Regions from separate parts of the Homo sapiens genome. Here region 2 is linked to region 1. Evidence: fine-mapped expression QTL. Tissue or cell type: tibial artery. Region 1 holds a variant in brackets; the other region holds the start of a gene. All regions are shown on one strand. Distances are from middle to middle.

What was found. PIP is the estimated chance that this variant, and not a neighbour inherited with it, causes the effect.
Region 2: LIF starts here. The variant in region 1 is fine-mapped to the expression of LIF in tibial artery (GTEx, PIP 0.97). The same link has a PIP of 0.9 or more in monocytes.

What each region holds. Positions count from the first base shown.
Region 1 is chr22:30,193,532-30,198,785 of GRCh38, reverse strand. All of the region lies in intron 1 of LOC105372988 (a long non-coding RNA gene), which reads left to right. It also overlaps a transcript of HORMAD2 not described here. Among named protein-coding and RNA genes, the nearest start is that of LIF-AS1, 43 kb to the left of the region's middle. RefSeq lists an enhancer at 2,301-2,420. The variant G/C (reference allele first, on the strand shown) is at 2,288.
Region 2 is chr22:30,243,953-30,248,990 of GRCh38, reverse strand. It overlaps LIF (LIF interleukin 6 family cytokine), which reads left to right and starts at 2,232. Exons shown (of 3, transcript NM_002309.5): 1 at 2,232-2,314; 2 at 4,058-4,236; 3 at 4,930-5,038. The coding sequence starts at 2,296. LIF-AS2 (LIF antisense RNA 2) reads right to left here and starts at 2,781. Exons shown (of 1, transcript NR_148946.1): 1 at 1,998-2,781. RefSeq lists an enhancer at 3,782-4,282.

The DNA.
Region 1 (5,254 bases):
ACCTGAGGCCATTTTAGGAAGAACTTTTTTGCCATGGTATAGTCACAGGGAAGCCAGATCCCAGATGCTGAAGTGTGGGGTGAAGCGAGGATGAGGACCAGGGAGATGAGAGAATCACCAGTGCCCAAGTGAGAGGATATTGTGCAAGGAGCTGGCAAATGTGGCTCAATTTTACAGAGCAGTGGAGGGAGAAGACTGCATTAGGGGCTGGCCTAGTTCAGTGGATGGTGACCTGGACACACATTATAATCAGCTGGAGAGCTTTAAAAAAAAAAAAGATCTGTGCTCAGATCCCAGGCCAGCCCAGTTAAATCCGAACCTCTGGGGGAGACACTCAGGCATTCAGGTATCTGTGTGTTGTGGATGAATCTCTACAGGTGACTGTAATGTGAAAGCAGCTCTGAGAACAGAGCTCCGGCCACAAGCAAGGCTGCTACTTCTTGCTTAGTTATACCTGACCTGGTGCAAATAAAATCACAATCACACACTTACATGCGTATACACATATACAAGTGTGTAAAACTCTGGTTAATGTTGCAATTTTAAACAAATAAATCTTTAGCATATTTACTGTCAGGGATCATCCTTGACTCTTCCTATTTTTTTGAGACAGAGCAAGTGTTGCCCGGGCTGGGGTGCAGTGGCTCGATCTCGGCTCACTGCAACCTTCGCCTCCCGGGTTCAAGTGATTCTCCTGCCTCAGCTTCTGGAGTAGCTGGGATTACCAGTGTGCACCACATGCCCAGCTAAATTTTTTTTTTAATATATTTTTAGTAGAGACAGATTTTACCATGTTGCCTAGGCTGGTCTTGAACTCCTGACCTCAAGTGATCCACCCACCTTGGCCTCCCAAAGTTATGGGATTACAGACCTGAGCCACCTGCCCAGCCCATCCTTGACTCTTCATCATTGTTGATGAAGCTGTGTGTGGAAGGCAATGGTGATGGGAATTCAACCTTAGACTAATCTCTAGGTCTACATGTGCAGTGGTTGACTTGATTTTTTTTTTTTAACTCATTATTGGTATCTTTTCAGATGTGTAGGAAAAAAGATTCTGGATATACAAACCAAATAAACTAGGGCTTCCTCATCTTACTGAGTTGGTGTCTCTGTCATTTCCCTAGTTGTTGTCCATAACTGGTTTCCTTTGACTAAAGTAATTGTATCTGAGATTATTCTCCCTTTGAAGATCTCTCAGCCAATCTTGTTGCTGAGGGCATCAGAAGAAGATTGAGAGGGTTATACTTGTGCCTTTTTTAAAGGGTTTGCCTACAGAGTGTGGTGTGAGATGTGGGGGAGCCCACAAGGATTTTTCTAGAAGTTTCTATCCTCAGAGATTTGCTCTAACAGAGGGTAGGGTCATGGTTCTGAATTAGGCATCCTCTTGCTCATGCTGGTTAATCTGATACATTTGGACTTCAGAGTCCTATCCTTATGCCACAAATGTGGGCTAGTCACCCACTTTTTCCTTGTGATATATCCCAAGGAAGAAAAGCATCATAAGATTTAGAGATGGGGCTTCCCTCTCTGTGATTAAAAAAAAAACCTAGGTCCAGTTCAGAATGAAGAAACTGAAAAGAGAAAATCCAACCCTTTTCACATCCAACCCCACCCTGTCCCTGGGTGGCCCTTACTTAACCCATCACCCAGCACTCCCTCTAGGGAAAAGCCTGCCCAAAAACTTTGGTCCTAAGAAAAGCCTTACCCTAATAAAGAAACTGGGAGGCTGCTGCTGGGCTGCAGCTGCTTTTATGGAAGGAGCTAGACCAGAAGCTAGACTAGGGCCAACAAGTCAGGCCTCTGTAAGAATCTTCCAAGGAGGTAAGGCGGGGAGAAAAAGGATTCCTCATTTACATTGAGAGTAAACTTCCTGTCCTATTAAACAATGAGGCATTCAAAATCCGCCTGAGTAAAAGTCCCCTGATGCAATGAGAGGGTGAGCAATTTCATGTCAGGCTGTTGTTATGGGATTTATACATGTCCTAGCTAGGGCTTGAGGTGAAAGTCAGAGCCAAAAACAATAGCCCTAAACCCCACATGCACAGAAACCTCATTCCAGTGGAGTTTCCTTAAGAGAGCACAGCAGACTTTTCACAAACAAAGTGACTTCAAAGGTAGCCTTGCATCACTGCCTCCTCCACTTGACACTTCCCTTCAGCCCAGACCTGGCCCCTCTGTTTCTTGGTTTAATTTATGAGGTTCTCACACACATTGCAAAGCAATTATCTGAGCTGCTGGCCAACAGGAAGGTAATTGTAACTGAGTACTTCCTTTGTCAAACGCTGAC[G/C]CTGGCCACCGCGATGGTGATGACGCTGGCCATGGCAATGGTGATAGGAGGCGTGCCGGCAGCTCAGCACCCAGTGACAGGATACCTCTGTTTCTCCCCCACCCCCAACACAATGCTGTCTGACTGAATTCTCCAGGGAGGAGGAAGCCAGTGGGTTGGAGGAATGGGGGAATTTTCTTACATCACTTGACGTGCTTGCTTTCACTCGCAAAATCCTGAGTCATGACTGAAGCTGTATTGCCTCAAGTCTCCGGCTGAAACCAGGGGTTATAGGTTTGGAAACCTGATTCCATCGGCTGCCTCTTGTCCAATCATCAGAGGAAATGTGTATTATTTCAGTTGATCCTCTTCAAGTTGAAGTGCCTTTGGATTGAGGGGATTACGTGAGGGAAGTGGCTCTGTAGTGGCTTAGTAAGCCAATGCCATGCGAGTGAACAATATTTGACATTCGGTGAGTTTACAGAAAGGGCAGTCTCTCTGTTTGTTTAAACCAAGATTAAGTGAAAGGAAAAGTTTTTCTTTCCCATCCCAAGACAAATGTGAAACACATGTTTTCCCTTTTGACTTTGTAAGTACAAGGCTCAAACAGTTCTCCCCACCCCCTTCGGCCATGAGTTTTTAAGGATTGCAGAATGTTTCCTCTCTTTGGTGGCCAAAGCCAATGTGAGCCTTTATATTTCCAGACAGTGGAGCTGATGATGATAGCCTAGTTGGTTCCAGGTAATCATGTAGGTTGTTTCTGGGCCTACCATTTTATGGGTAGATAGGATGGTAAGATGTAGTACAAGGAATCCCAGGCCTGAGTTCACTAAGCCTCAGTTTCCTCATCTACAAAATGAGATTGGTTGAACCTTAAATATCTCAGGTAATTTCTATCTTCAGAAAGGATGTTCATTCAGGTTGGTTTTTCTGGTATGTGGGGGACATTCCTAGTTGAGGTATCCTTTGCATGGGCACAAGGCAGTGTGCAGGCCTGAGGGTTGGGAGACCTCAGTCAAAGAGCCTGCCCTGCCATTGACTCACTGTGACCTTGAACAACTCACTTCCCCTCTTTGTGAATCCTTCTTATCTGAGAGAGGAGGTTTGACAGTCTTGCCCCTGACATAGCGGTTCAGATATGAGACAAGCCTGAATGAGACTGGGATGTCAAGTACTTTGAGCTCCTTGAAATGAAAGGATCATTCATCTTGGAAGATAAATTGTTAAAAAATGCTAGCTCATAACTATTTTTTTGGATTATCTCAAAAATAAAGTAAAGAAAATCAATGTTGTTTACTCTTGGTTTTCCTTTTTTTTTTTTTTTTTTGAGACGGAGTCTCGCTCTGTCACCCAGGCTGGAGTGCAATGGCGCAATCTCAGCTCACTGCAACCTTTGCCTTCCGGGTTCAAGCAATTCTCTTGCCTCAGCCTCCTGAGTAGCTGGGACTACAGGCACGTGCCACCATGCCCGGCTAATTTTTTTGTATTTTTAGTAGTGATGGGGTTTCGCTGTGTTAGCCAGGATGGTCTCGATCTCCTGACCTCATAATCCACCCGCCTCGGCCTCCCAAAGTGCTGGGATTACAGGCGTGAGCCACTGTGCCCGGCCCACTCTTGGTTTTCTTTAAATTGCTACTGGTTCAGGGAATATAAGCACCCAATGACCAACACGGGCTATAAAAATCAGGACTTTTACCACCCTGTGTTGGCCAAAGCAATGTTCCTAGCAGATTGCTTTGATCATGTTGCTACTCTGCTCAGAAACCTTCAAGATACTACTTGCCTCCAGGATACACTCCAAACTGACAGTCAGTTCCCCGTTGTGACCTGGCTTCACCTGCATTATATATCACCTCTTCTACATGAAATCCTAGAATTCACTAGCATTGCCACAATGATATTGGATCACCCCTGCAACATCTCATAAGTGGGTGGCCATTCTCTGGGTGCAGTGATAGGGAGAAGCCTCTGATACTCAAAGTAATCTGGCCTTTTTCTAATCACCCCTCATTGTTAGATACTTCTTCCCTATATTGAATGAGAATCTGCTTCATCACAAATCCCAACCAGCCATAGGTCCCACTGAGCTACCCCAATTCAGTTTCATTCCTCTTCTTCAATTTTTGAAGACAGTTATCATGTCACCCTGGAGAAATCTCTTTTCCAGACTAAACAACTGTAATGTCTTTAACAGATTTTTCATTGACTTGGTTTTCAGACTCCTAAATGTTGTTATTGTTACCTTTCCCTAGACATGCTTCAGATGGTCAATGTCTCTTTTAAAAACGTGAACCTTTGGACTAAATGCAACGCTCTAAATGTGGACTGGTTGGTGGCGCTAGTATCTCCTTTGTTTCTGTAATAGTTAGGTTAGGTAAGAGACATGACAATACTTCAGTGGCTTAAAGAATATAGAATCTTTTTTCTCTCAAGTAACCATCTTGAGAGTTGAGTGATGATGAGTGAGATGAGTGATCCAAGCAGGCAAGGGGCTGTATTCTCTGCAGTCATTCAGTGACCAAGGCCCCTTCTGACTGGGGATCTGCTATTCCATGTGGTGTTCTGGTATAAGCTGGGTTACTACCAAGCCTCAGATGCATCCAGCAAGAAAAGGAAAGTGTGAAGGGTAGGGGGGGTTCACCCACCTCTTAAGGGCCCCAGCTGTCACAGAAGATCTTTTGTTAGCATTCCACTCATGAAAACTCAGTCCCATGGCCATGTTCAACTGCAAGGGAAGCTGGGAAATATACTACAGCCAGGTAGCCCTGTGTCAGAAGCCCTATCGCTATGGAAGGACAGGAGAATGGACATTGGCAGCCACAGTGGGGACCAGCCTCATTGGTCTTTCAGTTCCAAAAACACATCAAGTTCCTTTCAGACTCAGGGCCTATGCACTCACTGTCCTGCTTGGAGTGTTTTGTCTCTCTGACTGTCCTTCCTCTTCATATGGCCTCAGCTCAAACACCACTTCCTCAGAGAGGCCTGCCC
Region 2 (5,038 bases), 50 kb before region 1:
AAACTGAGGCACTGGAGGGGCCAGTCAGGGCTGGGGTTAAGGGGCCTTAGTGTCAGTGTCTTCTAGACCCTGTCCTCACTTCCTGTTTCCTGTGGGGTGGGGCTGAGATTAAACAGCGATTGGGGGTGGATTATAGGGCTGATGTGGGGTCTGGCTTGCCAGAAGGCATGCAAGGGCCTGGGGGTCCGCTTGGAAGGATGCAGGGGAGACTGGGCAGAATGGTAGATGTAGGGGCAGCTGCAGAACTCTTGAGCCTAATGAGAGACTCAGGCCGGGCGACGGGGGTTTGATGGGTGGAGGCCACAGTGAGCCCCTGGTCACATGGATTTGGGGTCCATGTCAGGAGAGCCAGGCTGAGTCAGGTGGCAGGGGTCTGGGTGATGTGGGATGGGACTGGGGACTGGTCCAGAGCTCACGTGCTCTGAGTGGTCAGGTCCTTGTGCAGGAGATGCTGGGGGAGGTGTAAGAAGAAGGGTTGAGCTGGGGTGTCCTGGGATGTGGGGTTACCTGAGCCAGGCCAGGGCAGGTGAGTCTCCTAGTAGTGTACGCTGACCCCAGAGCAAGTGTATAGGAGCAGTAAGTGCCAAGTGGGGCCCTCCATGGTCCCTCAAAGAAGAGACAAGGTGTGGGGTGAGAGGCAGGAAGGAGGAAGGAGAGCCAGTTCGGGAAGTGCCAGCTGGGATGGGCAGTTTTATCACCTCACATCCGAGGCCCTGCTGGGAGAGAATGGGGGGCAAGAGCGTAGATAAAGCAGGGTGTGTGTGTGGTGGGGAACGGCAGCAGGCACCAGGGCTCGTCCTGGCACGATGAAGGAGGAACCCGTGGCTGGGCAGGTCTGGGATGTGGCAAGAGGCAGGAACTGGGGGCATGGAGGATGGGCGAGGGGGCGGTGGGGGCCCGGGCGAGGCTGCAAGAGCTCCCTGGCCTTGGAAAACCAACTCACACACCTTGATCTCAGGTCAGGGTCAGGCGGAAGGGCTGGGAAGGGGCCACAGGGGACTAAATCATCTCCTGGTACTGGGGGTCCCCTGGCAGCTTTAGGGACGGCATGGCCCCAGACGCGTGGCCATGCTGTCTGGCCGGCATTCCCGCATCTCATAGGGTGTATTTATTTTCACTTTTCTGTTGCATTTCTTGGAGGTGTCCCTGTGCTCATTTTGCCCGGCTCCCCACTGCTCCTTTCTGCCCTTCCTCATTCACAAATCGCCTGGCCTCAGAAGACGCCAGAACATGTGACACTGCCTTAGAGCCTCTAGAAGCACTTTTTGGGGACCTCCATCATTCTCTGAGGCTGGGCTCAAAGGGGCTTCCAAGGCAGGTCTGGAAGGGACCAGCCACTTCTCAGTTTCCCCAACCATCAATCAGCACCCGGAGGAGGAAACTGGGGTACGATTTCGCCAAGCCTCTCTCAGTCCTGCTTCAGAATGGAAATGCTGGACCGCCTTCCCAGAAGCACCTTCCCAGAGTGTCCCGACAGAACTGAGTCAGTCACCCCTACCCCCATGTCTTCCTAGCCCCTTCCCCAGCCTCACAGGTACAGTGGTCAGCAGGGCGAGTGCACTGGTGGTGTCTGGAGGCCTGACCCTCTGGGGCCCTGGGCAACGTGTTCCCCTCGGAGCCCCTTGGGGCCCAGTGGCAATGTGCAGATTGGAGGAGGCTACCTCTGGGGTGGCTTCCAGCGCCCATGTTCAGTTCCACTTTATGACCGTCTAAAGTCCACGCCGGCCCCGGCCCCTCCTCCTGGAGCCTCCTTCTCAGCCAAGCCCTAGCCCTCCTCCTCCCACTGCCCCCCTAAAGCCCCCCAACCAGGGGGCACAGGGGCCAGTCTCCATCTGCTAGTCCAGACTCGCTACCTCCCCAAACCCAGGTGAGTCAGGGCCGTCTGGGGCGCCCACTGCTGGGACCCCTGCTGACTCGGCCAGGGGCCCCCTCCTGGCGATGCCCATCTTCAGACAACTCCCGGGACAAGCCAGGCAGGAAAACCACAGGGCGTTTTGTCGAAGGCTTCATTATAATTTTATCAATCAAATTCTTAGAAGAGGGAAAAAGTCTGTTCTCCCCACCCTCCCCCCTCACTCGTCCCCCCCCTTCACTCTCACTTTCTTCCATTCATAATTTCCTATGATGCACCTCAAACAACTTCCTGGACTGGGGATCCCGGCTAAATATAGCTGTTTCTGTCTTACAACACAGGCTCCAGTATATAAATCAGGCAAATTCCCCATTTGAGCATGAACCTCTGAAAACTGCCGGCATCTGAGGTTTCCTCCAAGGCCCTCTGAAGTGCAGCCCATAATGAAGGTCTTGGCGGCAGGTAAATACACCCGCCCCGCGCCGGCTTCGCGTCCCCGCTGCGGGGCGCGGCGGCAACTTGGGGCGCTTGGCAGCGCGAGCCGGACGCCCACCCGCCGCAGACACACGAACACTTGGGGCGCCCGCGCAGCCACCGGAGGCGCTGGGTGGCGGCCCGGAGCGAGCGCGGGCACATGGTCCCAAGCACCGCACGCCCCGCGGCAGGTTGGCGGCGAGGGAGGGGGCGCCGAGCCTTCCTCCTCCTCCTCTTCTTCCCCCTCTCCTTCTCCTCCTCCTCCTCCTCGCTCCGGACACTCGCTGGCTGCTCTTCCCTCTGCGCTTTCTCCCAGATTCACTCTCCCTCTCTCTTTTTCTTTTCTTTCTTTCTTTCCGCTTTCTCCTTTCCAACCGCGGTCCCGGGCTGCTCCCAGGGAGGGGCGCGGGCGGCGAGCAGCTTGCAAACTCCGGCCTGGGACGGGAGCAGGTGCCGCCTCCATCTGCTGGTGTCTGGAAGCGTGTGGTCTGCGCTAGGTGAGATATAGGGGTGTGGCCCCCCTCCCGCAGCCACCCCGGGGCCTCAGCACTGCCTTGGGATGCTGGGACGAACAGGGGACCCAGGAGAAGTGAACTTGAGGAGGCCCCTGTCCCCGCTGTTCCAGCATGGGGGATCCGGGGGAGGTCTCCAGCCTCACTCGCCCGCTGACCCCGGCCCCCACCATCTTCAGGTGCCCTTCTGCAGAGCCCTGGAAAAGCGTCTAAGGGGGCCTGGGGGGAGTCGGGAGAACAGGCCCCCCTGGGGGAGGGGCAAACCAGGACATGTCGGGACAGCTCCCAGCTCTCCTGTCACCTTTCACTTTCCTTCCTCCCCGCCCACCCGACTGCCTATGACCTTTTGCCTTTTCTCTCTCCTGGTGCACCATTTCCTCTCCCTCCCTGAGCCGGTGTGTGTGTGTTAGGAGGGAGGGGAACCCCTGGGACAAGGGACAGCGGATGAGTCGGGAGAAGGCATGGAGTCAGGGGCTGTCCGGAGCTGGGGGAACAGAGAGTTTTGAATGATGATTTGGGGATGGAGAGTGGGGACAGCCAGGCAGAAATGGGGTGAGCTTGAGTGAGATAGGGGACACTAGGGAAGGAAGAGATAGAGGATGATGGGGGCGGGGGCAGAATTGGGGGCAATTGGCCCAGGGAGCCAGAATCAAGTGGCAGGTTTGGGAGGGAGATGAGGGTCAACCGAGGACTCCTCCCCACTCCCCCATGCCCCGTGGCCCCCATGGGTGCCTGGCTTCGGAGATTTGGGCTGCAATGGGCCAGTGAGTGGGAAGCGCTGCTGAGGAACCTGGGCCACCACGGGAGGTGGGAAGAGAGGGGTCTCCTTTCTCCTGGTGCCTGCTGGGCCTGGGGCCTGGTGCCTTCCAGCCAGAGGGCCAGGGGGCCTTAGGACCTTTGCCTTCCTGAGGGAAAGGGTGGGATGGCTGGGAGTCTCTCCTGGACCCTGCACCCTTTGGGTGGAAATGGCTTGTGTCTTGCCCTCATCTTTACGTCATCCCAGAAGAGAGCAGGGAGAACTAAGGTAGAGAAAGGGAGACAGAGAAACACACGCAGTGACAGAGTGAAGACTAGGCCCCAGGAAGACAGCTGCAGGTGGTGAGGGGGAACCAGGAGTCCTCTCCCATGCGGCCATTGTTGGACCCCCATCCGGTGTGCCATGACCCCAGGCCACCCTTTCCTGCCTTTCTACTCATGGCTTCTTCCTGACTGTCCCCAGGAGTTGTGCCCCTGCTGTTGGTTCTGCACTGGAAACATGGGGCGGGGAGCCCCCTCCCCATCACCCCTGTCAACGCCACCTGTGCCATACGCCACCCATGTCACAACAACCTCATGAACCAGATCAGGAGCCAACTGGCACAGCTCAATGGCAGTGCCAATGCCCTCTTTATTCTCTATGTAAGTTACCCCTGGGATACTGACAGGAGATGGCAGGGAGGGGGCTTGTAAATATCATTAGGGGCTGTCCTGATCTGGGTTGAGGGGACCTTTTGGGGCTGGAAGGAGAGAATGGGGAGAGGGCTTGATTAAACCACCCCCAGACTCCCGCCACTTCCTGCCCAAGCTTCCCCAGGGAAGCTTCCCCAGGGTGCCCAGTTAGCAAGGGGAGAACTGAGTGCAAAGGTGGGGACCTGGCACTTCTTATCTTGTGATTGTCCTGCTGCAGGGAGCGAGGGATGGAGGGGAAATGGGCGTGAGGCACCAGGGAGATGCGGTTGAGAGGCAGTGGGCTGTGGGTGCTGGGCATGGAGGGGCGTCCCGGAACATTGTGAGTGCAGGGATGGAAGTACTTGTGTGTGGTGCCCCAGCTAGGGCTAGACACCGAGTTTTCCCTTCTGTCCCCTTAGGGTGGTGATGATGATGATGATGATAATGATGACTGCGTGCATGGCTCAGTCTTTGATCTTTAGCAAGGGCACTCACATTACAATTAGTTTTGGCTCTCATGACAATTCCAGATGCTTACAGGGCAAGGAGTTGGGTCCTCATGCGCTAGATGGGGAAACAGACGCAAGAGCTTGCCCAAAGGGTTGGCGGCAGGGCTGGGACACTGACCCCTGACTCCCACGTCACCTCCCTTCTGCCCCTCAGTACACAGCCCAGGGGGAGCCGTTCCCCAACAACCTGGACAAGCTATGTGGCCCCAACGTGACGGACTTCCCGCCCTTCCACGCCAACGGCACGGAGAAGGCCAAGCTGG